Homo sapiens: one gene and its partners. The protein of the gene in region 2 interacts with the protein of the main gene of each other region in a biochemical or structural test. Each region holds a gene or a part of one and is shown on either strand. Other genes may lie near its edges. The genes, in order: ARIH1, UBE2E2, RNF111 and SPEN.

What was found.
Region 1: the proteins of UBE2E2 (region 2) and ARIH1 form a complex in vitro, tested with the Homo sapiens proteins (one study listed by BioGRID).
Region 3: the proteins of UBE2E2 (region 2) and RNF111 form a complex in vitro, tested with the Homo sapiens proteins (one study listed by BioGRID).
Region 4: the proteins of UBE2E2 (region 2) and SPEN form a complex in vitro, tested with the Homo sapiens proteins (one study listed by BioGRID).

Annotation. Positions count from the first base shown.
Region 1 is NC_000015.10:72,596,305-72,603,329, forward strand, and holds the end of ARIH1 (E3 ubiquitin-protein ligase ARIH1), read left to right. Parts: 3' UTR 1-6,683; downstream 6,684-7,025. UniProt on the Homo sapiens protein: E3 ubiquitin-protein ligase, which catalyzes ubiquitination of target proteins together with ubiquitin-conjugating enzyme E2 UBE2L3.
Region 2 is NC_000003.12:23,584,303-23,591,327, forward strand, and holds part of UBE2E2 (ubiquitin-conjugating enzyme E2 E2), read left to right. Parts: intron 1-5,431; coding exon 5,432-5,529; 3' UTR 5,530-7,025.
Region 3 is NC_000015.10:59,025,662-59,032,686, forward strand, and holds part of RNF111 (E3 ubiquitin-protein ligase Arkadia), read left to right. Parts: intron 1-5,142; coding exon of another isoform or gene 5,143-5,161; coding exon 5,162-6,041; intron 6,042-7,025. UniProt on the Homo sapiens protein: E3 ubiquitin-protein ligase. Required for mesoderm patterning during embryonic development. Acts as an enhancer of the transcriptional responses of the SMAD2/SMAD3 effectors, which are activated downstream of BMP.
Region 4 is NC_000001.11:15,843,031-15,850,727, forward strand, and holds the start of SPEN (msx2-interacting protein), read left to right. Parts: upstream 1-4,676; 5' UTR 4,677-5,037; coding exon 5,038-5,120; intron 5,121-7,697. UniProt on the Homo sapiens protein: May serve as a nuclear matrix platform that organizes and integrates transcriptional responses. In osteoblasts, supports transcription activation: synergizes with RUNX2 to enhance FGFR2-mediated activation of the osteocalcin FGF-responsive element (OCFRE).

The DNA of each region.
Region 1 (7,025 bases), on a different chromosome or scaffold from region 2:
TTCTGGTGAGAAGTCATTCATCATTTTAATTTTTATTTCCTTTCCGTAATGTGTGGTTGTTCTCAATGGCTGCATCTGTGCATTATATTTACTTTTCAGTAGATTGACTAGGGAATGTCTAGGTATGTTTTTCTTTGTATAGAGTTTACTGAACTTCTTGGATCTGTGTTGATGTCTTTCATTAATATTGGTTCTTTCTTGGCCGTTATCCGTTTACATTTTTCTCTTGTCTCATACTCTCTTGCTTCTCCTCTTCTTTGGAGATTCTAGTTACATGTATATTAGATGATTTGATATAAACCTACAGATCTCAGATGATTTTTCCCCTGCCCTGTTTTCTTTTTGTTTTCAGTTTGGATACTTTCCATTTAACCATCTTTAAGTTTTTTGATGCTTTCCAATGTTAACCTGTTAAACTTGTTTATTGAATTCTCCATTTAAAAATTTTTATTTTTAGTTATTTATGGATACATAGTTGTACTGAATTATTCATTTCTAATATTTTTATTTCTAGCATTTCATTATATTTGTATAGTTACAATTTTCTGCTGAAATTTCCTATTTCTTCATGCATGTTTTCCACATTTTCCATTCTACTTTTTAGCATTTTAATCAGTTATTTTATTGGGTTTTTTCTGTTTTTTCTTTCATTTTTAATCAGTTATTTTAAGGATCCAAACTGATAATTCAACATCTGGGTCTTTTCTAGTTCTGCTTCTATTGAGCCCTTCCTCTCCCTTACCATGAATCTTATTTTCTTGCTTTTGCACGTCTTGTATATTTGATTGGATGATGGACGTTTTATGTTGAAAAAAAAAAGAAATTGAAGAAAATGTTTACTTCCAAAACAGAGCATGCCCTTTGTTTTTTTTTCAGGCCACTTGAATGGTGGCTCAATCTGATGTATATGAATTCTAGACTGGGGCTTCACTGCAGTTTTAGTTTGATTCAGTTTGCCTCTAGCTTCAAATATTTGAAGGAACGTAGAATCAGAACTCTCATATCACCAGGGCCTGAGTTTTGGGCATTGGCAAGATTCCAGAGATCTGACTTTGCTTCATAGCTAAGCCACCAGCTTTTATCAATGTGGGAGATCTTTCCCTACTTTACAACCTTGCTGCCAGGATTTTTTTTTTTAATCAATGGGCTGGGGATAGGAGGATCTTTCTCAGCTCTCATGTGTGCCCTGCCCTTTTGTAGAGGAATGCCCACAATGCCTAGGGGATGGGTTTCTCAGCATTTCTGACCCCATTTAGGCTCCAAGAGTGCCTCTGTTGGATTTCACAACAATCCTGCCTCCCCTTTCATTTTTAAAGGGTATTTTGCCCTTGGGAGAAGTCAAGCTCTCTCAGCGTTCCTTCTATTATCCACACCTTTAGTGTACTACACCTTCCTGTACCTGGTTATCATCTAAGGGGTAAGATTGGTGGGAAGCCTTCCTCTGTGGATTTGGGTCATCTAGGTTCTAATGTCAAACCAGCCTCCAAGGGGTTGTGAAAATGTTGTTAAATTTCAGCAGGTTTCTCTTTTCTCCCCCCTGTAGTATTCCTCTTCCTACCATAGTTCAACTAGGAATAACAACAGCTAGGGGGTCTCTTCTCTCCTATGAAGGACTTGGCACTTTCTGGAGTTTGGATCATTTAGGTTTCTTTGGTTTTTGTTTTTATTTTGAGACAGGGTCTCACTCTTACCCAGCCTGGAGTACAGCCTGTAGTGATCTCAGCTCACTACAACCTCTGCCTTCCTGGCTCAGTTGATCCTCCCACCTCAGCCTCCTGAGCAGCTGGGACTACAGGCGTGTACCACCACACCCGGCTAATTTTTGTATTTTTTGTTGAGATAGGGTTTTACCATGTTGCCCAGGCTGATCTCAAACTTCTGAGCTCAAGCGATCTGCCTGCCTCAGCACCCCAAAGTCCTGGGGTTACAGGCATAAACCACTGCACCCAACCTAGATTTCTTTGTGTCCTTAGCTTTCTGATGAATTAAACATATGTTTTATTTTCTAGCTCATCTGGCCTTTTGTTGTTGTTTGCTAGAGTGGGAGGTATATTCCTTGTGACTTTGTTCATATCACTAGTGAATTTCAGAAGTAGGAGTTTATTTTTTTAATAAAAAATTTTTTTAGGTCAGGCACAGTGTCTCATGCCTGTAATCCCAGCACTTTGGGAGGCCGAGGCAGGTGGATCACCTGAGATCAGGAGTTTGAGACCAGCCTGGCCAACATAGTGAAACCCCAACTCTACTAAAAATACTAAAATTAGCCAGGTGTGGTGGTGGGCGCCTGTAATCCCAGCTACTTGAGAGACTGAGTCAGGAGATTTGCTTGAACCTGGGAGGCGGAGGTTGCAGTGAGCCGAGATTGTGCCACTGCACTCCAGCCTGGGTGACAGAGCAAGACTCCCTCTCAAAAAAAAAAAAAAAAATTTTTTTTTAAACACGTCTCACTGCCACCCAGGCTTGAGTGCCATGACATGATCATAGCTCACTGCTGGCTTGACCTTCTGGGCTCAAGTGATCCTCTTGCCTCAGCCTCTTGAGTAGCTGGGACCACAGTCATGTGCCACCATGCCTGGCTTTTTTTTTTTTGTAGAGTTTGGGTCTCGCTATGTTGCCTGTGATCCTCCCACCTTGGTTTTCCAAAGTGCTGGGATTAAAGGCATGAGCCACCATGCCTGGTTAGGAATGGGAGTTTAAACAATGGTTTTATTTACATATTTCATTAGCTAGTATTTTTTTCTTTTTTGAGACAGAGTCTGGCTCTGTTGCCCAGGCTGGAGTGCAGTGGCACGATCTAGGCTCATTGCAACCTCTGCCTCGTGATTCTCGTGACTCAGCCTCCTGAGTAGCTGGGATTACAGGCGCCCGCCACCACACCCAGCTAATTTTTGTATTTTTAGTAGAGACAGGGTTTCACCATGTTGGCCAGGTTGGTCTCCAACTCCTGACCTCAGTTGATCCACCCGCCTCAGCCTCCCAAAGTGCTGGGATTACAGGTGTGAGCCATCGCTCCTGGCCTCATTAACTGTTTTCAAAAGTAAAAGTACATGGATAATACAAAGTTAAATTTTGTAGAATCATAAAGAAAAGCAACACCTTCCCATCTTAACTCCCCTAGTGCCTCTACTCCCTCCACAGAGACAAATATCTTACCAGTTGGTTGTGTTTTCTTTTCCAAACTGTATTTCTAAAATGTGTCAATATCTCTTCCTTTTATTTTTTATTTTTTGTAGAGACAGGGGTCTCACTGTGCTGCCTAGGCTGGTCTCAAACTCCTGGCCTCCTACCTCGACTTCTCATAGTTCTGGCGTGAGCTACTGCACCTGGCCTCCCCCTTATTATTTTTTTAAACATGAATGGAAGCATACTATATTTTCTACACTTTATTTGTTTTATGTAACTATTTTAACAACCTGAGGACTTTTACAGGCTGCATAATATGTCTTAATATGGATGTATCTTAGTTTATTTAAACAGTTACTGGTGATGGACATTTCCATGTTTCCAGTATTTTTTCTCACAAACAATGCAGTATTATGCCTTTGTCCACATTCACCATTGATTGCTATTGAGTATATCTGTAGCATCAAGAATAGGCATACTGAAAATCCTCCATGAAGTCCAGTGAAGCTTCATATTATTTTGAAGTGATATTTCCCAGTGTTGGCTGGACTCTCAAGCGTTTGTGGTATAGGTTTTGGGAGGACTGGACACTTCCAAAGAGAAATAAGATGTTACAGACTTGTCCAGCAGGTGGCATCAGAACAAAGCTGGCTATGGACCTTGTCAGTACAAATGATAAAACATTAAAAATGTAAAAACTCAACTGTAGCTCCTTGTTTATACATATATTGGGGGTGTTGAAAAGTTACCGATGCCTGATTCCTCTTCTATGTCCTCAGCCCCCACCATAAAAATAGATAAATGCCATTTTTTTTGTATGCCCAGCACAGCTATATGATTTGAATAATCTTGATAAGCAGGGTCACATTTGAGGAGATTTGCTAAGGGAAATGAAGATCCATCTGTGACACAAGAAACATGTTCTATGTGATTTCTGGGATTTTCCTGTGAACATACTTCTTGTTTGTTTGTTTTACAGTGGATCTCACTCTGTCACCCAGGCTGGAGTTCAGTGGTGCAATCATAGCTCACTGCAACCTTGAGCTCCTGGGCTCAGGAGAGCCTCTCTCCTCAGTCTCCCAAGTAGCTAGGACTACAGACACATGCCATCATGCCAGGCTCATTTTAAAATTTTTTGTAGAGACGGGTCTCACTATGTTGCTCAGGCTGGTATTGAACTCCTGGGCTCAAGCAATCCTCCTGCCTCAGCATCTCAAAGTGTTGGGATTACAGGTGTGAACCATAGTATCCAACCTATTATGTTTTTTTAAAAAGAGATTGTTCTAATTATGTATATAATTAAAGTACATTAGGTTTAGTGATTGCAATTTGAGAAACCAATGTCCTTTCTTATTGAAAAAGGCCCTGGTACAGAAAGTGTTCTATCTTCCTCACAAGATCTGAGGTCAAAGGAGAGATTTTGAAACATTATAGCAATGGCTTCTAGTTATTGAATAAAGAATGTCATTTGCTCCTCACAGGACCCCTTTCAGGGAGATTTCACATATTGGGAAACAGCCTCATGAGCTTTCTACAAACATCTTTGTCCTTAAGTCTTCCCATTTCAGTAATTGGCTGTACCACTCATCCAGCAGCTTTCAAAGTAAGAAACCTGGCAATCTTCCTTTAACATCCATTTCCCTTTCCCTCATTCCCCCATATCCAATCATGTGTATTGGAGGTTTTTCCACCTCTAAACTTGAGAACCCATTTACTTTTTCTCCATCTCCTTTGCCATCACACTAGTCCAAGTGAAGTGTTTCATCATCTCATTTGCAGCATCCTTTAGTTTACCCTAGATTATCAATTTTTGTCCCCCTCCCAATTCAGTCTCTACTCATGAGCTAACATGAGTTTATTAAGTGTTCATTCTGACCATGCCATTCCTTGCTCAAAATTCTCTAGTGCCTTCCCAATGCCCTTAAAATAAAATTCCTCATATGGCCTTTGTGGATCTGCACTCCTACCTCTTCTCCTATTGCAACCAACCCTGTTACCTTTTTCTCTTTTCACACTGGTCTTCATTCTGTGCTGCAAACTGGCTGAGATTCTTCCATCCTCAGGGCCTTTGCACAAGTTCTTCCTTTGCCTTAGAATTCTTTCCTGGCCTGCACATGTCTTCATCCCCTTTCCCTAAGCTAATGCCTTACCCTTTAGGTCTCATTTTAAACATCTCTTACCCAGGAAAAATTTCCCTGTCCAAACAAGTCTAGATTGGCTCCCCATTGTTTGTTCTAACTGTTCTATATTTCTCCTTCTTAGCATTTATCACAATTCTTGGTATGTTGTGCTTTTCACTTTCTTAGTCGCTATTATTGGAGTAGGTAATACATCCATATAGTACAAAATTCAAAATGTATTAAAGGTATAGAGTAAAAAGTCTTCTCTTCCCTGTCCCCCCGCTACCCAGTTCTCCTCTTTAGAACCACTTTTAGCATTTTGAATATCCTTCCAGAAATATTTTCTAAGTATACAAGCAATTATGTATATAATATTCCTCTTTATTTTTGCCTTTTTATTAATACAGATACTATATGCATTTTCTGCACTTTATCTGTTAATAATATATCTTGGCAATTATTCAATATTAATATGTAAATAGTTGCCTCTTTCTTTTTCATGCGCCATATAATATGGACTTATAATTTATTTAACCTCTATCTAGGTTGGTTTTAGGCATTGGTTATTACAAATAATGCTGCATTGAATACCTTTGTATGTAAAGTCATTTCCCACATCTATGCCTATAGAATAAATTACTAGAATTGAAATAATTCAGTTAAAGATTATGTGCATTTTTAATTTTGGTAGTTATTGCCAAACTGCTCTCAATGGAAGTTTTATGAATTCCCACTAGTGAATGCATTTGTCCTCACAATTATGTCAGTGAAATTTTTGTTCTTTGCCAATGCAAGAAATGGAAAGTATCTCTTGGAAACTAATTTGCATGTTTTTTTTCCTTGCACAGTTATATTTTCATATGTTAAAGAGCCATTTGTATTTCTTGGTGAATTGTTCATAAACTTTGCTTACTTATTATCTAATGTCTGACTAATTTGCTACACTCTAAATTCCCAATTCATACTTAAGTCTCGCCCTTGCAATTTAGATGTACAATCTGCCTCTTCAGTGGTTTCCACACCAAAAAATCCACAGGCTCCTGAATTTTATATGGGCCTAAGAGTCTTACTGAAAATTGGAAGTCTTAAGGTGTAGTCTATTTTATGCAGTGTGAGGCCTTTCATGCTCTGAAATGTACCACTCTTGACTGACTTTTTCTTCTTCACCCTGTCCGGCACTGTGCCCTTATTAGCCAGAGAAATGTTCCCCCTTTCTCCCAGGAAACGTTCTGACCTTACCCTGGTCCCTCAAGGACTCTCCTTCTCCCCCAAATTAACTTTCAAGGAGTTTCTCCAACCCAAAATGGCACCCTTCCTGAAAAGATTTCTAGTGGATACTGTTTTCTGTACCTCACTACGGATGTATTTTGCTGCTTGGCTCCCCGTCTCCATTTTGCTATGGCAAACATTTTTTTCCAGAAATATATCAGATAAAATGAACATGTGGTCCCTTTTGTTGATTTTTGTTGGGATCCATGGTATTGATTTCTTCTAGTTTAGATAATTCCACCGTGGCAAGCTTTTATTCCTAGCATAGCGCTCATGAGGAGAATGTTAGTCACTTGGTGTTATTAATGCTAAAATAGTAAACAAGAACACAAAATTTGCTAGATTAGAAGTGGATTTTTTTTCCAGGCTGGGCACAGTGGCTCATGCCTGTAATCCCAGCAGTTTGGGAGGCTGAGGCAGGCAGATTGCTTTGAGCTCACGAATTCGAGACCAGCCTGGGCAACATGGAGAAACCCCGTCTGTACTGGGGCTAATTTTACCAAAAAAACTAGC
Region 2 (7,025 bases):
GATTTGGTTTGCTAGTATTTTGTTGAGGATTTTTGCATCTACATCCATCGATCCCTTTTAGTCTTGTTCCCTGTCTCTGTCCTCCCTTTTCTAGGTGGGACTATAAACCCTTTGGCTTCCAGGGTACCCAGTGTAGCTCCATCCATTAAAGAGGCAAGGTGGGAGTTGTCTGAGCCTTTTTCCTCTAGAATCAAAGGTGCACATACCACAGATCTCAAAAAATGCGAAGAGGTAGATTACGCAATATGACAATCTTTTTTTTTTTTTCTGGAAAGACGGTCTCGCTCTTTCGCCCAGCTGGAGTACAGTGGCGCAATCATGGCTCACTGTAATCACGACCCCCTGGGCTCCAGTGAACCTCCTACCTCAGCCTCCCAAGAAGCTGGGACCACAGGTACATGCCACCACACCCAGCTGTTTTTTGTTTTTTTTTTTTTTTTTTTTTTTTTGTAGAGATGGGTTCTCACTGTGTTGCCCAGGCTTGGTCTCAAACTCCTCGGCTCAGGCCATCCTCCTGCCTCAACCTCCCAAAGTGCTGAGATTACAGGCATGAGCCGCTGTGCCCAGTTGGTATGACAGTCTTTCACTCGCTTGCAAATAATAGTGATTGTTAGTTGACAGGTATGTACTCTTTGCTTCTAAATTGTGTAGGGAGACAGAGGTGAGATAGAGGAAGTAGAGGTGAGTAAGAAGAAGGTATGTTCCCCTTCATCAGTGATCTTGCAGTCTTACGCTTTCATTCAGGTTATTATTTTATGACTGGTATTTTGTTAACAAAAATGCCATGATGCTGGCTTGGAGCAGCGGCTCATCCTGTAATCGCACCACTTTTGGAGGCCAAGGTGGGAGGACACTTGAAGCTAGGAATTTAAGACCAGCCTGGGCAACATCTGCCGTCTCTACCAAAAAAAATAAATCAATAAACTGGACATGCTACTGTGTGCCTGTAGTCCCAGCTACTCAAGAAGTTGAGGCAGGAGGATTGCTTGAGCCCAGGGGTCAAGGCTGCAGTGAGCTATGATCCCACCACTGCACTCCAGCCAGGGCAACAGAGTGAGACCCTGTCTCAAAAAAAAAAAAAAAAAAAGACATGATTTTTATTAAACAGATGAGGAAATGTGATTTAGAGGAAAGCTTTGTATACCTAACTTCCATCTCTATGATATTCTGTTAACCACACTGTAGATCCTATACTTCTGCCTCAGGAAACCTCTAATACATGCCGTACTGGTGTTTGGGAGAATTAAGTACTTGAAGTCATCTAACTCTGTTCTGCATAAGTCTGAACATGCTCCTCTTTTCAAAAGTGTAAATAATTTTTGAACAAAAACAGAAAATGTGGGAGGCTTTGATTTCAATTTACTTATCTACTGATAAATTTTGTGGCTTTTCTTTAGTAAAAATGAGGAAAACTGACAGATGATAATCTCAAATATTAATAAAGATTTGGGAAAATAGTAACAATCTAGAAACCCAAAATGATGGGAAATATTTTCTTCTTGTTAGAGAAATAGGGTACAGTAATTTATGTTTGGAGCCTGGCTTGGATGGCAGAGTGAAACTGTCTCAACAAAAAAAAAAAATTATTTGGTTGATAACATGTTTTTTTTTTTTATTACCTTTTAGTGTTGCTAAATTCATGACTTTTATTTACCATTTATTAAGTTTAACATTCTGCTAAGAAACAGTATTTTCAGACTTTCACATTGAAAAGTCCTCCCTTAATTAAGCATATACAATTTACCATTTTCAGCAGAGATCCATTTTCACAACTAGCTCTTCAGGATTATTCCACTGAGCTGAATCTTTATGTGCAGCATATGAAAAAGTAGTTTGTAGCCTTTTTCTCCTTTCATGAAATATTAGCTTAAACATCAGCACTGCTACTGGGGGTAATATTCAGAAAATCATAGGGACATGTAAATTGATATGAGAAGATAGTTACTATGTTGAATAGAATTTTAAGTGAACATCAAATACTAATTGTTAGTGGTCTTTTTTATTTTTTTAGAAACAGAGTCTTGCTCTGTCACCCAGGCTGGAGTGTGGTGGCATGATCACAGCTCACTGTAGTCTTAAACTTCTGGGCTCAAGCGATCCTCCCACCTCAGCCTCTCAAGTAGGCTGGACTACAGGGGCACACCACCACACCTGGCTAATTTTTGTTATTTTTTTGTGGAGTTGGGGGTCTCAGTGTGTTGCCCAGGCTGGTCTTGAACTCCTGGCCTCAAGCTGTCCTCCACCCTCAGACTCCCAAAGTGCTGGGATTACAGACGTGAGCCATCTGACCCAGCCAATAACATGATTTTTTTAATTCCTTCATTGTGTATTTTTACTTTATCCCTTCATTTTATACTTTAAACAAATTTAAGATTTGTATAACTTCCAAAGATGCATGCATGGTAATGGTCCTCACATCGTTGTTTTTAAAACAAAAGTTGGAGAGTACCCAAACATCTAAAAACAGGAAATTCGTTCTTAATTCAGGTATTAGAAATGATGAAGTAGATCTACAATTATCTATGTAAAAAGTTATTTACCATATCGGTATAAAAATCATAGTTATTTTTTAAAAGATTACAAAAGCAGACTATAAATTAATCCCTTTTTTTTTTTTTACATCATGTGATTAGAAGTGTAGGAAGAAAACATACCACGATGTTAACAGCAGTTTTCTTTGCGTGGATTTATACACGAGATGGTCTTTACTTTCAACTTCCTGTCTTGCATATTGTCTGAGGTGGTTTTCTAAATTATTATTAATTACTGTTTTATAGTTAGTGTGTATAATTTTACAGGTGGAAAAAAAATTTTTTAATCAAATTTGAAAACGTAAAAGAACCTTGAAAGCAATTAAATGTTAAGCATGCAAAAAAAAGTTTGCACAACGCACGCTAATTGTTACCAGCACTCTAACTTGTTTTTAATTGTTTCTCCTTTTGCCTGTACTGAAATACTATTAACAGTTGATATGACACATTTTCCCACCCCACAGCTTCTTGTTCCCTTTATTCTTCATTTGTTTCCCTCCACCCCCTTTGAGCTGAAGTGGCAGACCTGTCTTATTCCCAGTGTGTACACTCTGGATGTGGGTACAGTTTGAGGTGGAACATATAAGTCAGTGTTATTCTTCTGACATTGAGCCTTACCTTCATCAGTAAGTTAGAATGGATCTTCAATGTGTTTCACTAATATAAGTTCTATTTAATTAAACACCTATCTTGAGTGATACAGACTTAAACTATTAAGGATGCCCACGTTTCACCCTACTCTTTGCATTCTAGAATGCCAGGAATCAGAACAAGATTACTTTTTTTGAAGGTAGAGAAATGTGACTCAGATTTCACTTTGGCCCCTATTACTCTAATGTCATTACTTAAGCTCAAGTGAAAGGCTACATTTTTAAAAAAGTATCCTGGCCAATTGCCAGATATTTTGTGTCTGTATTTGGTAGTGCTGGTTTAAATCTTGTTGAATCTTGACTGGACTGGGTGAAATGGTAGAGTTTTCATTTCAACATCTGAGAAAATGAAGAAGAATCACAAAGAGTAGGCAGAGAGGCAAACGTTTCGAACAAACCCACATACTAAGTAGTCTACTAATTGTGATATAAGTGAATGTAGGAAACTGGCTTCTCCCTGGAATAATTATTACGAGATTTACACAATTCCAGGAAAACTTAAGCAAGTCTTGTTGAGCAGGCTTTCAAAGGCTTTGTTATCATGAGCTTCAGCAGATAGGTTAAAAAGTGGTGTTTCTATTATACCTTTCATATTGAGAACATATGACCATGAGTGCCTTACAAGGTTAGTCTCAGGATCTTCCCAAGTTGCCGGTGGTGTTGGGCCACAGACGTAGTTCCATATTCTCTACTATTTTTTTCCTACCAAACATTAGCTTTTGATGATTTTTCTCATTTTCCCTAGTGGATCCTCCTTACCTGACTGCTCTAATATACCCAAATTCCCAATACCAAAAATAGGGGAAATATAAATCGGGGAAAGAGTGAAATTAGAGAATTGGAGGGAAAAGAGTAGAATCTGGGATCTTTAGGAACCTAAGTTACTTTTTTTTTAATTGCTTTGCTTTTTGTTTTTTTGTTTTTTTGTTTTTTTTTTTTTGTCTTTTTTTTTAAAGAGGGTCTCACTCTGTCACCCAGGCTGGTATGTGGTGGCACGATCATAGCTCACTACAGACTCAAACTCCTGGACTCAAGCGATCCTGCTGCCTCAGCCTCTTAAAGTGCTAATATTACAAGCATGAGCCACCGTGCCCCAATTTTTTTAATTAAACGTTGACCCAATCAATATTCTGGATAGAGAGCTATCTCCCAGCACCCTGTTAAGTTAAGCACCCTGTTAACTAACAGCACCCTGTTAGTTAAGAGGGTGAACTCTGGCTCCAAGCCCTGCTCCACCCCTTTCTCCACGTTGGGCAAGAGACTCAGCCTCCTTATGCTCCAATTTCCTCCTGTGTCAGCTCCTTAGAAATCCATGTCATTAACATATTAGAGTTTTAGGACATGGTTAGTCATGGTGAGTGTTAGCTATTATTAACATCTATTAGTATTTTTGTAATAATGAGCTATGTAGGTTGGATGTTACCAAATTTTGAGGAAGAAGTGGACCATCTCTCCCCTCTTTTGACTGTCCAGCTCAGACTCTGGCGTCTCCTCAGATAAGGTAATCTGGCAGGAGAATGCCACCTGCCTGTGGTGCTAGCCTAGGGTAAGGAGTTGTCCAGACCGCCAAACGTCTTCCCAGGAGAGCTCATCAAGAGCCCATGAGTCCCCTGCCCACAGCCCACCTGCATTTTCTCCGTGAAATATCTACTTGAAGACAGGCATCTCACACCTGTAATCCCAGCACTTTGGGAGGCTGAGGCAGGAGGATAACTTGAGCCCAGGAGTTTGAGACTATCCTGGACAACATAGTGAGACCCCCAAAATTACAAAAAAAAATTTGAAAATTAGCCAGGTGTTGTTGCACACACCTGTGGTCCCAGCTACTCAGGAGGCTGAGGCAGGAGGAGGATTGCTTGATCCCAGGAGGTCAAGGCTACACTGAGCTGTGATCATGCCACTGCACTCTAGCCTGAGTGACAGAGCAACACCCTGTCTCAAAAGAAAAAAAAAAAAACCAATACGAGGGGAGCAAGGTGAGAAGTATGTGGTGGGTACAGGGAAAGAGAATAAGACTTGTCAAGAAATATGACAAGAGCTATCAGTAAAATACAGATAGGTGACTCTTGGGGCAGCTGGTGTGAAATGTAGTCTGTCAGCAGCAGGTGACTGGCTCAGCCGCAGCAATGGTGGTCCAGGTTAGAACAGCAGCTTCTCATCTCCTACCCTCCCACTCCTTGCCAGCTTTCTGAACACTTCTTCCCCCACAGTGCTGGTATTTACTGACTCCCAACTCTGCTTTCCTTGCAGCTGACCCTCTGGTGGGCAGCATCGCCACACAGTACATGACCAACAGAGCAGAGCATGACCGGATGGCCAGACAGTGGACCAAGCGGTACGCCACATAGGGGCCTGCTGCCTGCCGCCCCGCGGGACCTGTGCAAGCACATTCACCAAGTGCATCGGTAGCCCTGCCCACCCCTCCAGACCTCGGTTCTTATTTTCCTATTTTTATTAAATTTGGAACCATTTTGTGATGGTATGTTGTCCATCTTCCCATCCCAGTTCTTCCTGCCCCCCTTCCTCTCTCCCACGCTCTCTTTTATCTCTCATTTTATTCCCTTGTTGATTTCTGTTAACTTGAAAGATTTGGGATTTTTTCCCACCTCATCATAGATGGGAACTTTTGTTTTCAGTGCAAACAATGTTGGAGCTGTAATAGTAAGAGCTTTCTTACAAAGCTTTGTATTACTGTGTGGTTTTGTTTTTTTTGTTGTTGTTTATTTGATTTTGATTTTTTTTTCTTTTATGTGATCTTTGGGAAAACACATTCAGAATTATATCTCGTTTCTACTTAAATGTAGTGCTTAGGGTTAATTTTTTGTACTGAAGTCTTTATTGGTGGGTGCATGCTACTGGGAACAAGTTTTTGTACAAAAGCTTCAATCAGAATCACTGTGCATTACTGAGACTCTGTTTATCACTAGCCTTCTGTCCCTCCCGCAGAAGACTGTTGGATTGAACAAAATAATATGTATTTTGATTTACTTAAAGTGCTTGTAAATTTCTTAGGGACCTGCCACTTTTGACTGTGGATCAGTTGATGTACACTTGTATTATTAAAGCACTCAATAAATCACTGTGGCTGATAACTGCACTTCTGGTAACCCGACATTTGCTTTGTGTCCTGGTGACCGCTGTAGCCCTACGTGCAGTGAGGCTTGTCTAATTCAATTACAGGTTCAAGTGTATTTTTCATCTCAAACCTCTAATATTTCTTTGGAGTTGAGTTGCTTAGCATGTGGAATTTCTCCAGCTGTCAGTAGCCTGATGATTTTATGGTTGTTATAGTAAATTGCTATCATTTTACATATTGACTGGGCATTCTTTCTGTTACAGCCTTCTTTATCAACAATTAAAATATGTAACTCCAAAAATAGCCTTCTTGTGAAAGTGAAGTCTGAGCTAATCATTGTGTTCAGCCACTTTCAACTTTATTTCTCTCAAAATTGTTACAGTGATTGCCCTCAAGCTTTGTATTGTTCATTTTTGTTGTTGTTGTTGTTGTTGTTGCTGCTCTTTTTTCTCCATGATTTTAGCAAAAGAAGTAAACTCAACTGTATTGGTCACGGTCAGCCCATTCAATGACAAGGGTGTCTGTCTGGCTTCACCTTCAGGCTATTTTAGTGTGCAGCTATAGGAGGCAGAGGAAACGTGGGTGGTGTAGTTTCTAAAACACGCTGACTTGCTGATTGATAATTCAGGGTTATTAGTGTAACAAAGCGTAGTGGAAACTCCTACTCCTGCTGCACCATACAGTTACAGACCCTACCATACTCTTGGTCTCATTTAAGGAACCATTAACACCTTCACTGCTGAAAAGCAGGATTTATAAGCATAAGTC
Region 3 (7,025 bases), on a different chromosome or scaffold from region 2:
TTTCTAGTTGATTTTCTGATAATCTCTAAAACTTTTGTAGAAAAATGCCAAGTCATCTATGGCTTTTTTTTTTTCTTTTTTCTTTTGTGTCGGAATTTTGCTCTTGTCTCCCAGGCTGGAGTGCAATGGCGCGATCTCGGCTCACCGCAACCGCTGCCTTGCGGATTCAAGCGATTCTCCTGCCTCAGCCTCCCGAGTAGCTGGGATTACAGGCATGTGCCACCACGCCTGGCTAACTTTGCATTTTTGGTGGAGACGGGTTTTTTCCATGTTGGTCAGGCTGGTCTCGAACTCCCAACCTCAGGTGATCTGCCTGCCTTAGCCGCCCAAAGTGCTGGGATTACAGGCGTGAGCCACTGTGCCCGGCCGGCTTTTTTTTTTTCTTTTAAAATCTTATTTCTTTAGAGTCATGTAAGCAATCATTACATTTTTATTTAAAGTTGAAACAAGTATTCATATTTATAATTGGTGGTGAAGCATCATACCAATAATAGTGTATCACAGTTTAGAAGTAGAGTTCCTCAGAGTTGTATGGATAGTCTTAATGGGTTTTTCCTCCTTTTGCTCACATAAACTTGTTTATGATGTGAATTACTAAATCCCAACCCTAATTTTTAGTTTTGAAAGTTAGTATTTTTTTTTAGCTATCGTATTTTCTTAGTGCAAGGTTTACTAATAGTGGTGTATTCTACACTAGTATCAGGAGTAATTAGCATGCAGTCATCATGACATAGCAATGAAATGATTGGATCGATCTACACAAAGAGGGACTAGTATTATGGTTTCAGTATTGAAACAGTGTGTAACAGCAAGCCATTTATAATGTCACCAAGGAGATATATCTTGTACGCATTTGCCTCCTTTGTAAATTAGATCAGCCAATAATTTTTACAAAAATAAAAGACTAGAATATGGTTTTATCAAACAGCAAATAATTTAGAATATTATCTGTTATATTTGCTGCTTTTTAAGTTAAATGCAATACTTGTGTTTATTTCCTTTTGAACTTTCCTCTTCTAAGTTCAAAATACAGCCTGATACAATTACAGGGATGGATTTTAGAAAAAAAAATTTAGAACATGATACAATACAGCGATGGATTTTAGAAAAAAAAATAGTATGAATTACTCCCTGGGTGGGAACCTCTTAGTTATATGGGATATTAATTTTGCATTTAATGACTGCATGATATGTTAACTCAGAGAAGAGTTAACTGGTGTACAAACACACACCACAGCATACACCAAACCACCCCCCCTTGCTCTCCTCTACCCTTGTCTCATTGGACAGACTAAACTGATCAAAAATCAGAGCAGATTTAACCATAAAGAGTTGATTGCATTGTTTTGGCTTTGGGACATGAAATGATGGAAAAGAAATTGGGTTTAGTTAATTGTGCTGTGAATTGCTTCTTTGTAAATTAATGTATGGCTGCATGTTCTCAGAATTTGTCTGGTTTTTGGCAAGTTTTCATTGCTTCTCATGATCTCCATTATCAACATGAGGACTTAGTAATTACGGATGAGGAGTCTAATTTTTAAATCTTCAGCCCATAAAGACTCCAAGATCTCCTCCTCTGAAATCCACCAGAACATAACTCTGACATGGGTTTCTGGAAGAACCCCAGCTGTTTCCAACATACATCATGAGACTTCTGTTGCTGATGGAGTCTCTGATGCCTAGAAATCTTGATACTTTTCCTCTTGACTTTTTCACTTTTTTTAAACCTCTTGACTTTCTGGCAGGAGTTTTATTGAGATTTTATTTCACTGGGTTTTTAGTATATTCACAGAGTTGAATAGCTGGCACCACAATCAGTTGTAGAACATTTTCAGTTCACTGAAAATAAAAGAAATTCTATACCTTTTTTTCTTTTTTTTTTTGGGAGACAGAGTCTTGCTCTGTTGCCCAGGCTGGAGTGCAATGGCGCAATCTCGGCTCACTGCAACCTATGTCTCCTGGGTTCAAGCGATTCTGCTGCGTCAGCCTCCTGAGTAGCTGGGATTACAGGTGCCTGCCACCATGCCTGGCTAATTTTTGTATTTTTAGTAAGACAGGGTTTCTTTTCACCATGTTGGTCAGGCTGGTCTCAAACTCCTAACCTCAGGTGATCCACCCGCTTCAGCCTCCCAAAGTGGTGGGATTACAGGCGTGAGCCACTGCACCTGGCCCACCTTTTTTTTTTTTTTTCCCCACTCTTGTTGTCCAAGCTGGAGTGCAGTGGTGTGATCTCAGCTCACTACAACCTCTGCCTCCCTGGTTCAAGCAATTCTCCTGCCTCAGCCTCCTGAGTAGCTGGGATTACAGGTGCACGCCACCATGCCCGGATAATTTTTTGTATTTTTAGTAGAGATGGGGTTTCACCATGTTGGCCAGGCTGGCCTCGAACTCCTGACCTCAGGTGATCTGCCCGCCTCGGCCTCCCAAAGTGTAGGGTTTGGCCACCGCGCCTGGCCAGAAACTCCATGCTTTTCGGCCATCATAGTTGAATCCTCCGATGATCCCCAGCCCTAGGTAACCACATTCTATCTATGTAGATTTGCCTATTCCAGACATTCCATATAAAGGGAATCTTACATTATGTTATCTTTTTGACTGGTTTCTTTTACTTAGCATATTGTTTATCCATGTTGTAGCTTGAGTCAGTATGGTAGTCTGCGCCCCTGTCCAAGGGGAAACCATTCTGAGTCCCCCAGTGGATGCCTGAAACCATATAGTGTTTTTTTTTTCATATACCTACATGCCTATGATAAAGTTTAATTTATAAATTAGGCAGAATAAGAGACTAACAACAACAATAAAGTAGCAAAATTCTAACAACATACTGTGATAAAACTTATGTGAATGTGGTCTCTCTCTCATAGTGTGAGTAACTGAAGCTGTGGAAAGTTAAACTGGATAGTGAGGGACTACCGTACTTCATTTCTTTCTATTGCTGAGTAATAATCTTTTGTATGGATTTATTTATTCATCAGTTGATTGGCATTTGTGTTCCCACTTTTTTGGCTGTTATGACTAATGTTGCTGTTTATAAGTTTTTTTATGAATATGTGTTTTCATTTCTCTTGGGTACATACCTAGGAGTGGAAATGCTAGGTCACATAGCAATTTTGTGTTTAATTTTTTTTTTTTTCTTGAGATAGAGTCTTGCTCTGTTGCTCAAGCTGGACTGTAGCGGTGCAGTCCCAGCTCACTGTAACCTCTGCCTCCCAGGTTCAAGCGATTCTCATGCTTCAGCCTCCCAAGTAGCTGGGATTACAGTCAGTGCGCCACTATCCTGGCTAATTTTTGTATTTTTAGTAGAGATGGGGTTTCACCATGTTGGCCAGGCTGATCTCGAACTCCTGGCCTCCAGTGATCCGCCCGCCTTGGCCTCCCAAAGTGGTGGGATTACAGACATGAGCCACCGCGCCCAGCTTGTATTTAATTTTTGAGGATCTGCTAGACCGCTTCCCAAAGTAGCTTGTATCATTTTACATTTCCATCAGCAATATATGAGGGTTCCAATGTTTTTTTTTTATGCATCCTCTCTAACACTTGTTATTACCTGTGTTCTTTATTACAGCCATCCTGTTTGGCCCCATTCAACTCTTAGATCACATGTACCTGTGTTTTATCATTGTGACTTCTGTGTTCTTGCCTTTAATTAAAGTGATCCTTGTCTGACTGGCTGCCTTCTGTAATTTGCTCATTGCCATGCTCATGTTCACTCATCTTTGTATTCCTGGTTTATCACTGATCCTGCTGAACTACAGATAGCGCGTGATGGCTGATCTTGGATACAGCACTGCCTGTGCTTGTGAATAAGAATAAAAGAAGATAGTGGTTTTGATAGCTTTCTGTAGGAATAGGTCATTCTATGCCTTAATTATTGTCATTTGTTCTGATAGTAAAGTTATATACTATAGTAACATGGGAGACCTGTAAGATTATATATTTCTGTAACCCATTTGTAGAGAGGGAAAATACTTGCTTACTAAACAGCTGTTGTACTCGCTTTTTAGGAACTGGTTTCAAAATGTATTTTATGGGCAAAACAAATCTGTGGTGTCAGAAGTTACAATAGTGGTTAACAGTTTGGTGGGCTGTAGTAATGGGAAGAAGATTTCTAGGGTGCTGGTTATGTTGTTTATCTGTGTGCCAGTTACATAGAGGTGTTCATTTTTTTAGTGTTCATTCATCTATAAACTTAGAATATGTGTGTATGCTATACTTAATAAAAACTTGTTAAAAATATGTTAACATTGTTTATTCATGTTTTGCACTAGTAAAGCTCTTCATTTGTCACATTTACTGCCTTTCTGATTAATATATTTCATTTTGAGTCATGATATTTACTATTACATTATTTTCATATGTACATTGCATTGATGTAAATGCTTTAAATTCAGATCTCTTTTTGGCAGCTCGTAATTTAAGATGTTGAATGATTTAGATAGATTAGCTGTACAAAGTTTGATTTTATGTTCTGCTGTATTGTTTATTTAACTGAATGATCTTCAGCAGCCCACAGTCTTGGCTCTAATCTTTTTGTATTTAAAACTGAAATGCAGTAGTTGTGTCTACTATCAGGAGAATTCAGATTCTCATTAGAGAATTAATAGAGTAGTATGAAGGAAAAAAAATAGAAAAGAGAAGCTTATATTCATTAGCTCATTATTAATAATATCAATCTAATGTAGTAACCATCTAGATGTACAGAAACATTTAATAATAACCACTTAAAAATGTCATACCAGGAGTAAAACATGTTGACTAATTAGTCTTTTGAATTCGAATCCTTTTATTTATATTTCACTGAAATAGGTTTTGAAGTAATTGTTTGATTTGACCAAATATGTTTTGTTGCTGAAGGTAGTGAGATATGCAATAAGATCAGTTTTTGGTTAATAGAAGTTTTTAAGTAGGCTTATGCTCTATATCTACTGTATTTCTAAAAATTGGATGCATGAGTAGAGTGACCAGAGAAAAACGTTTTATAAGAATAGTAAAATAATTCATAACAGACATTTTGTGTACTGATGAGGAAAAGACAGTTCTGCCTTTATAAGGGATCTTCTTGGTGGAATTTGAGAACTCTTCAATTAAATAGTATAATAAAACACATTAAAAATCTTTTAAATATCTAATTTTGTCTTCTAGGCTTTCCTTAAAGTTTCCCATGTCTCAATGGACTCCTGAATATAACGAGCTCTACACCTTAAAAGTGGATATGAAGAGTGAGATTCCTTCTGATGCACCAAAGACACAGGAGAGTCTGAAAGGGATCCTTTTGCATCCAGAGCCCATTGGGGCAGCCAAAAGTTTTCCTGCAGGAGTTGAGATGATTAATAGTAAAGTGGGGAATGAATTCTCTCACCTGTGTGATGATTCTCAAAAGCAAGAGAAGGAAATGAATGGTAACCAGCAAGAACAAGAAAAAAGTCTCGTTGTGAGGAAAAAACGCAAAAGCCAGCAGGCTGGCCCTTCGTATGTGCAGAATTGTGTTAAAGAAAACCAGGGAATATTAGGACTGAGGCAACACCTAGGGACACCAAGTGATGAAGATAATGATTCCTCTTTTAGTGATTGTCTTTCTTCTCCTTCATCTAGTCTGCATTTTGGAGATTCTGATACTGTGACTTCAGATGAGGATAAAGAAGTCTCTGTAAGACATTCCCAGACCATTTTGAATGCTAAAAGTAGAAGCCATAGTGCACGGTCTCATAAGTGGCCTCGGACTGAGACAGAATCTGTATCGGGATTGTTAATGAAAAGACCCTGTTTACATGGCAGTTCGTTACGGAGACTTCCATGCAGAAAGAGATTTGTAAAAAATAATTCCTCACAGAGGACACAGAAACAAAAAGAGAGGATATTAATGCAGAGGAAGAAACGAGAAGTGTTAGCTCGAAGAAAATATGCCTTGCTACCTAGTTCTAGTAGTTCCAGTGAGAATGACCTCAGCAGTGAATCCTCTTCTAGCTCATCAACTGAAGGAGAAGAAGATTTGTTTGTTTCTGCCAGTGAAAACCACCAAAACAATCCAGCTGTTCCCTCAGGTAAAAATGTTTAAGCTGAGTAAAACATGGAACCTATTGCATTGCATTTGTGCTTAATTTTTTGTTTGTGTCTTACTGATTTTATTTAAAGGGACTATCAGGTTCTATTAACTTTTATTTTTAAGTCATATAAATTACCAATTGCAGTATTAAACCATGACTCTAATGCTAAGATAAAAATTTAAAAAATTTCTAGTGACAAAAATAAGTCAGAGTTTTTTGGGAGAATAACCCTTCATTACTTTTTTTTTTCTGAAACAGAGTCTCACTTTGTCACCCAGGCTGGAGTGCAGTGGCGCAATCTCGGCTCACTGCAACCTCCGCCTCCTGGGTTCAAGCAATTCTCCTGCGTCAGCCTCCCAAGTAGCCAGGATTACAGGTGCCCACCACCATGCCCAGCTAATTTTTGTATTTTTAGTGGAGACGGGGTTTCACTATGTTGAACAGGCTAGTCTTGAGCTCCTGATCTCAAATTATCTGCCCACCTCAGCCTCCCAAAGTGATGGGATTACAGGCATGAGCCACTGTACCTGGCCTCATTTATTACATTTTATACATATTAGATTATATTTTATGTATGTTCTTCATTTATGGTACACATTTTTTTCCTTGTGTTTCTTTAATATGCTTGACTGTTATGAATACTTTTTCAGCTACCTGTATGATGGATTCAGCCATAGTAAGAACAGTTCTAGTCACTAAAAAAGACTGGTTAATTTTTTTTCCTTTGTTTTTTTGAGGCAGCATCTGGCTTTGTTGCTCAGGCTGGAGTATAGTGATGCAGTCTTGGTTCACTGCAACCTTCACCTCCTGGGCTGAAGCCGTCCTCCCACGTCAGCGCCTCAAGTAGCTGGGACTACAGGCCCACACCACCACACCTGGCTTATTTTTGTATTTTTTGTAGAGATGGGTTTTGCCAAGTTGCCCAGGTTGGTCTTGAACTCCTTAGCTCAGGCGATCCACCTGCCTTGGGCTCTCAATATT
Region 4 (7,697 bases), on a different chromosome or scaffold from region 2:
TGGCACCATTGTACTCCAGCCTGGGCGACAGAGCAAGACTCCATCTCAAAAGAAAAAAAGAAGAATTTTTTTTATATTTTATATATATTTTATTTTATTTTTATATTTTGGGCTGGGCGCAGTGGCTCACACTTGTAATCCCAGCACTTTGGAAGGCCTAGGCAGGTGGATCACTTGAGGTCAGTGTTTCGAGATCAGCCTGGCCAACATGGTGAAAACCCATCTCTACTAAAAACACAAAAATTAGCCGGGCGTGGTAGCAGGCACCTGTAGTCCCAGCTACTCAGGAGGCTGAAGCACAAGAATCTCTTGAACCTGGAAGGTGGAGGTTGTAGTGACCCCAGATCACGCCACTGCACTCCAGCCTGGGCAACAGAGCAAGACTGTCTCAAAATAAAAAAAGAAGAAATGCATATATATATATTTTTTTCTTTTTTTTTTTTTTGAGACAGAGTCTCGCTCTGTTGCCCAGGCTGGAGTGCAGTGGCGTGATCTGGGCTCACTGCAACCTCTGCTTCCCGGGTTCAAGCGATTCTCCTGCCTCAGCCTCCCGAGTAGCTGAGACTACAGGTGCATACCACCATGCCCGGCTAATTTTTTGTATTTTTAGTAGAGATGGGTTTTCACTGTGTTAGCCAGGATGGTCTTGATCTCCTGACCTTATGATCGGCCTCCCAGAGTGCTGGGATTACAGGCGTGAGCCACCAGGCCCGGCCAAAATGCTTATATTTTAAGTGCATGTTTTCTCCTGAAACAGCTTAATTTTAATAGCTTGGGACCTGACTTGTAACCAAATTCTTGTTAAAATCTGATAACTATCCTGTCCTGTTTAAATGGAGATATTATTTTACTACTCTACTGGCTGGGTTAGCATTCAAAGCCTGAGTTGGAGGCTCAGACGCTTTTTCCATCTGAGCTTTCATTACGCATGACTGAACTCTTTGAGCATGTCTAGCATGCTAAATACAGCAGCTCCTCACAGTGTGAAAATAAAACCTGATTAAAAACAAATCTATTTTAATTCCACTTTGCAAATGGCTCTGCTTTAATGTCAGCTTTCTGAATTATCTTTAGTAATCAAATGAGGAAATTCACTTCACCATCCGTTTATCATAGATAAATCACAACCTACTTTTTGATCTTTTTCAGTGAGCATCAATTATTGTTAAATAAAAAAACATCAGAGAATAACAGAGTGGGTTGCCTTTCTATTGAAAACATAACAAAGATACATGCTTTAAAGAAGTTCTGCCCCTGTAAAGCTTTGTAACAGGAATACAAATGGAGAAAAGCTTTTCTGGTGTTTTTTGATGCATTGTCAGCAAAAATGAAAAGCACTGAGAAAATCAAAAACTTGATTTGGGGCTGAGCAAAGGGCATGTACTTATCAGTTTTGTTATTAAGAGCTTTTGCAATAGAAACAGTCAACCAAAAAAAAAAAAAAGCAAGAAACTTCATACTTGACATGCAATCACTATATCCTGATTTGACTACAGGACCTGGCTATAATGGTGAAAATGGTTTTTTTTTTTTTTTTTTTTTTTTGAGACTGAGTCTCACTCTGTCGCTCAGGCTGGAGTGCAGTGGCACGATCTCGGCTCACTGTAACCTCTGCCTCCCGGGTTCAAGTGATTCTCCTGCCTCAGCCTCTCGAGTAGCTGGGATTACAGGTGAGCACCACCACGCCAGGCTAATTTTTGTATTTTTAGTAGAGGCCAGGTTTCACCACGTTGGCCAGGCTGGTCTTGATCCCCTGGCCTTAGGTGATCCGTCCATCTCAGCCTCCCAAAGTGCTGGGATTATAGGCGTGAGCCACCGCACCCGGCTCTTTTTTTTTTTTTTTTAAAATCATGATTTTAACAGAAGCCTCCATTCAAGGCGAGACATGCCTTTTATTTCTCTAATTGCGAGACACTTTTCTGAATCCTCTTGTCAGTTGCACCTTTTAATACAATTGAGGTGACACTGTTCTTCATGGTGACACTGGTCTTTCCCAAGAGGTTTCAGCTAATTCAGTCTATCAGATTTTACATCAGATTTTAAAATTTGCTTCAAACTTGGGTGCTTGTATTCAAATTCATGCTTCATAGAAAAATGCATATCAGTTCAACAGTTGACTAACTGCAGCCACGTTCACAGTACTGAATAGTTCATGAGTTTCGTTAGTAGGGTGTTAGCTTGACTTTCCTTATGTGATAATTGTGACAGAGAAATGGCCAGATGTAAATAGCCAATTTTACTTTTTTTTTTCTTTTTTTAAGAGAGGGGTTTCTCCTATGTTGCTGAGGCTGGAGTGCTGGGGCTTTTCAAGGCACAATCATAGTGCACTACAGCTTGGAACTCCTGGACTCAGATGATGCTTCTGCCTTAGCCTCTCCAGTAGCTGAGACTACAAAGAAACAATTTAGTTATGCATAGGTGACCTGAGATATTAGTGCCATTGGTTTTGGTGACAATATTTTCGAATTCAAATAGTGTCGTTTGTAAGTTAGTTTGTATTTAAGGAGATAATCGATGAGGCCAAGTATTTAAAATTGGCTGGGCTGGTGGTTCATGCCTGTAATACCAGCACTTTGGAAGGCTGAGGTGGGCAGATCACCAGGTCAAGAGATCGAAACCATCCTGGATAGCATGGTGAAACCCCGCCTCTACTAAACGTAAAAAAATTACCTGGGCGTGGTGGTTTGCGCCTGTAGTCCCAGCTACTTGGGAGGCTGAGGCAGGAGAATTGCTTGAACCCGGGAGACGGAGGATGCAGTAAGCAGAGATGGTACCACTTCACTCCAGCCTGGTGACAGAGTGAGACTGCGTCTCCAAAAAAAAAAAAAAAAAAAAAAAAAAAATCTGGCTTGCACCTGAAGCAGCACACCTCTGGTATTTCTGTGTATTTTTATTATAAATAATTTTATTTTTCTCTCGATATAGTTACCTTAATTTTATGGGTTTTCCTTGAATTTCTGTAAATTGGCCTTTATATAAAAGTTCAACTGGCCGGGCATGGTGGCTCACGCCTGTAATCCCAGCACTTTGGGAGGCCAAGGTGGGCAGATCACCTGAGGTCAGGAGTTCAAGACCAGCCTGGCCAACATGGTGAAACCCCGTCTTTACTAAGAATACAAAAAACTAGCCTGGTGTGGTGGTGCGCGCCTGTAATTCCAGCTACTCGGAAGGCTGACGCAGGAGAATCGCTTGAACCTGGGAGGCGGAGGTTGCAGTGAGCTGAGACAGCGCCATTGTGCCCCAGCTTGGCTAACAAGAGTGAAACTTGGTCTCAGGAAAAAAAAAAAAAAAGAGGCTGGGCGTGGTGGCTCAAGCCTGTAATCCCAGCACTTTGGGAGGCTTGAGGCGGGTGGATTACCTGAGGTTGTGAGTTCGAGGCCAGCTTGACCAACACAGAGAAACTGTCTCTACTAAAAATACAAAAATTAGCCGGGCATGGTGGCGCATGCCTGTAATCCCAGCTACTCAGGAGGCTGAAGCAGGAGAATCGCTTGAACCCAGGAGACAGAGGTTGCAGTAAGCCGAGAACACACCATTGCACTCCAGCCTGGGCAACAAAAGCAAAACTCCGTCTCAAAGGAAAAAAAAAAAAAAAGAAAGTTCAACTGTAGGTTTCAAAAGCTCTTAGGCCTGGAAAGGCCAGAGGTCTAATTCCTTTCTCTGTTTAAATATTAAATTATGGTCTGAGGGGAACAATATTGGATTCCTGTCTCATTTCCGTTTTATTCCTTCTATACCACAGCGATCAGCAAGGGTATCTTGCAAACGGTTTCGCAAGATTCTATATAAAAAAGTTGCTTAGGCCAGGTGCAGTGACTCCCGCCTGTACTCCCAGTACTTTAGGAGGCCGAGGCGGGCGGATCACCTGAGGTCAGGAGTTCAAGACCAGCCTGGCCTACATGGTGAAACCCTGTCTCTAATAAAAATACAAAAATTAGCCAGGTGTGGTTGCGGGTGCTTGTAATCCCAGCTACTTGGGAGGCTGAGGCAGGAGAATCGCTTGAGTCTGGGAGGCGGAGATTGCAGTGAGCCGAGACCGTGCCACTGCACTCCAGCAGCCTGGGCAACAGAGCGAGACCCCGTATTAAAAAAAAAAAAGTTGCTTCATGTTACAAGCCAGTGACTCTTGGATGGGATGCGTTTCTGAAGCCGTCGCTGTTCAGCAGAGCGGTGAGAAGGGCAACCTTTTTCTGATCGCTTTCCCAAGCAGGCAGGAATCTAAGTGTCCGGAAACGCCAGGAGCTGGCCGCCAGGTGAGCGGAGGACGAAGGGGTCCTGACTTCTAGGGGACAGGCCTTGGCAGCCGCTTTGACCCGTAGCCCTGTGGAAACCAATTGCATTTCTCTTCATATCTTCCACCAGGCCGGGGCCTGGGGTTGCCGCTGGAGGGGCTAAAGACCGCTCCTGCTTCCTCAGCCGCCCCTTGCCCGGCGCGGGAACCCGACCGAGAGCCCGCCAAGCAGCGGGACTCCACTAGCAGCTGCGCGCCTGCGCACCGGGGCCGAGCGCGCGAGCGTTCCTTCCCCGCCTGTAGTCCCTCACTTCGTCGCCCGGTCCGCGCGCCTGCGCGCCGGCTGGGAGGAACTCAGCTTCTCCGCCTTGGCAGGCGGGAGGACGCGCGCGCGCCCGCGGCGAGGGGGAGGCAGTGCGGCGGCGGGAGTCGGGCCGCGCGCGCCAGTGGGAAGCGTCCGGCTGCCACAGCGCCAGCTCCGTCGTAGTCGCTGCCGCCCGTGTCCCGCTCGCCCCTCCTCCCGCTCCCCCGCCCGCCCCTGCCCGGGCGCATGCGCTGCCGGAGCGCGAGGGTCGGCTTCGGGTGTGTGGTGGCGGCAGAGCTGAGCTGCGAGGCCCGAGAGTCAGAACCTGGGGGAGAGGGATGGTCTCTGCACGGGGGGGAGCCGGAGGAGCCGCCGCCGCTGCCGACGCCACCGCCGCAGCCGCCGCCGCCGCCGCCCCGGCACCCGCCTCCCGGCGCTGACGGTCTCGTACGAAGCCGGCGAGGGGGAGCCAGCAGCGGCGGTCGCCGGCACGCCGCCCAGCATGGTCCGGGAAACCAGGCATCTCTGGGTGGGCAACTTACCCGAGAACGTGCGGGAAGAGAAGATCATCGAGCATTTCAAACGGTGAGTGACACGAGGCCCGCGGCCGCGCTCGCTCCTCGGGCGCCGCTTCCCGCCCCGGCCCGTTGCCGGCCCCTCCCGGAGCGCGGAGCTGGTGAGGAGGACTCCGGCCCGGACCCACGGGCGCTGTGGGACCTCGTCAGCCGCTCGGCCCGCGTCGCGGCGTTGGGCCTCGGGTGTCGGCGGTGCGGGCGGCCAAGCCGCGCCGCCTTCGAAGAGCCCGCGGGGCCCCGGCGGCCGCGTCCGTGACGAGGGAGGTGACCGAGGCTCGGCCTCCACGCAGCCGGCGCCCCGGGGCTGCCCTCGCGTCAGCCCGGGAGTCGGTGGGAGATGCGCTGGGCGGCGGGGTCGCGTCCTTGCGCGCAGTGCCCGGCCCGGAGCAGCCGGGACCCGAGCCCGCCCGACAGCCGGGTCCGGCGCCGCCACTCCAAGCTGCTCTGCGGGCGCTCGGCAATGTCTGACTTCGGGAGGGTTCCGTGCGAAGGGAAAGGCGGTGCGAAAACAGAAGTCGCAGTAGGTACTGTGGTCGCGTCGCGGACCCGGAGAGACCATCTAGGACCTCTCCGGAGGATTTGCAGCCTTGAAACTCACTGGGAATGGCAAACGTTTCTCGTTTTTGCGGGGCTGGGTGGAGAGTGGTGTGAAATAAGTTGGTGCGCCCGTTTGGGCTTCCTCGTCCCCGGCGGAGGAGACCGCGTCTGACAGGAGGTTGCTAGCCCCGGCGCCCGTAGCCTCGGGTCGCACTCCCAGGCCGCCCTAAGACCCTGGTGCCCCCCACCCCTGAATTCCCGAATCAAACGGTAAAACATTCCAAACCTTTTACGATGAGAAGATGTAGCTTAAAAAAAAAACCTCCCCTGAATATTTTTGTGAATTATAAGAATAAATGTTGTCGTTGATACATCTTATTGAGTAGCGTGTAGTGCGTTTTCTTTGTGAAATGCCTGTGTACCGTAACAGATAGGCCTCCGCATAAAACACTTATTAAAATGACGATTGGCTTGGACTTGGTGCAGATTCAGAGGGACCATAGCAAATCTGTGGTTGTCCTCGAAAATGACAGTTTATTCCGATATTTAAGACCCTGGAAGGTTTTAAGTTTGGCTTTTAATTTCCCTTACTATGTAGTGAGTGAAGGAAATTATGGAGCGTCCTCATTAATGAGTCACCATGGGAAAAATAGATTGCGTCGCTCGCTTTGAGCCGCTTGGATAAGGAAATGGAAGCAGCGGCGGCGGAGCTCCTGTCTTTTAAATGGAGGATCATTGATTGTGTTGGTGGTTGCTGTTACTGGGGCATTAAACCCTCGCCGCTGGAGCGCGCGTCTGCGCGTGTCCGCGTGTGAAAAGGAGCCGGGAATCGTGGGGCCATTCATAACCTGCTTGAGCTGTCCTCGGCAGGCCGGGGGGAGGTGCGCGCTTCCAGGGACTCTCCCGGTGTTTACTACGTCGTGCCTGAGAAACCAGGCGGGGGCGGGGGGAGGCAGGGAGCAAAAATTCACCTCTGTGCCCTAGGATGAAGGGGAGACCACGGGCTGGATTGGGAAGCAGATGGGAACTTTCTCTTCCTGGCGCTGCTCCACCCCTTACCCGCCCCCCACCTCCTGGCTTCTCCTCGAGTATCGTCAGTGTTTTGATGGAAAAATCATTTAGGTGTACATTATTGGAGTGGAAAAACCACTTAGATGTGCTCACTTTAATCCCCTGTGGACTTTCTCTGTAGGTCTCTGCCTGGGAAATTCGTATGCACCGATGTACAAGCACGTGCATTGCAGCATTCGCTCGCTCCTCAGTGTTATGTGCCTAGACGTGTCATTTCTCATTATGCAGATTCCAGAGACATTGCATGCTTATGGCTGGGAGTTTGGCCCCTCTGCAAGATGAGGGGGCAGAGAGAAGAAAGAGGAAATCGTCCCAGGCAGCTTTGGAAGGGTTCTTAGTGGACGGTGCTGCGGTCTGGCTTGTGTGAATGACTTTCTAAAATGGCGGCCAGGACCCACTTTATGTGGGAATCAGCAGAGCCGATCTCAGAATGCACAGAGGGAGGAGGGGGCGGAGGATTCGAGCTGCCTTGGAAAGCGGCAGTCTGGAGGAACATTACTGTATTAAAAACGGCTTAGCTGGCAGTTTGCTCACGACTGCATTCAAAGGAGTATCTTACCTATTGCAGAGTAAAAGCAGATGCTACTGATAAAAGCAGGTTATTTTAAAACTAAGCAGATCATGTGTCCCTGAAATTCTTTTATTTTAAAGGTTTTTTTTTTTCATTTTTAAACAAATCTATTTAGTTGTTTAAATAGACAGTACATTTTTATGGGTTCAAAGCATGTGAAAGGTATACAGAGAAAAATCTCCACCCCTGACCCTGGAATTCCCAGTTGCCACACTTCCTCCCCTCACCCCCCAAAATCCAGGTAATGTCTATTTCTGGTTTCTTGTTTATCTTTCTGCATGTACAAGAAATGTTCCTGCTGATCCAGCTGTGGAGCTAAGTGGACCTTGTTTGGAGGAACTCAAGGCCTTTTATCCCTATTGTGGGATATATTTTGTAAAATGTGTGATTGCTACTAGGAGTAAAAGT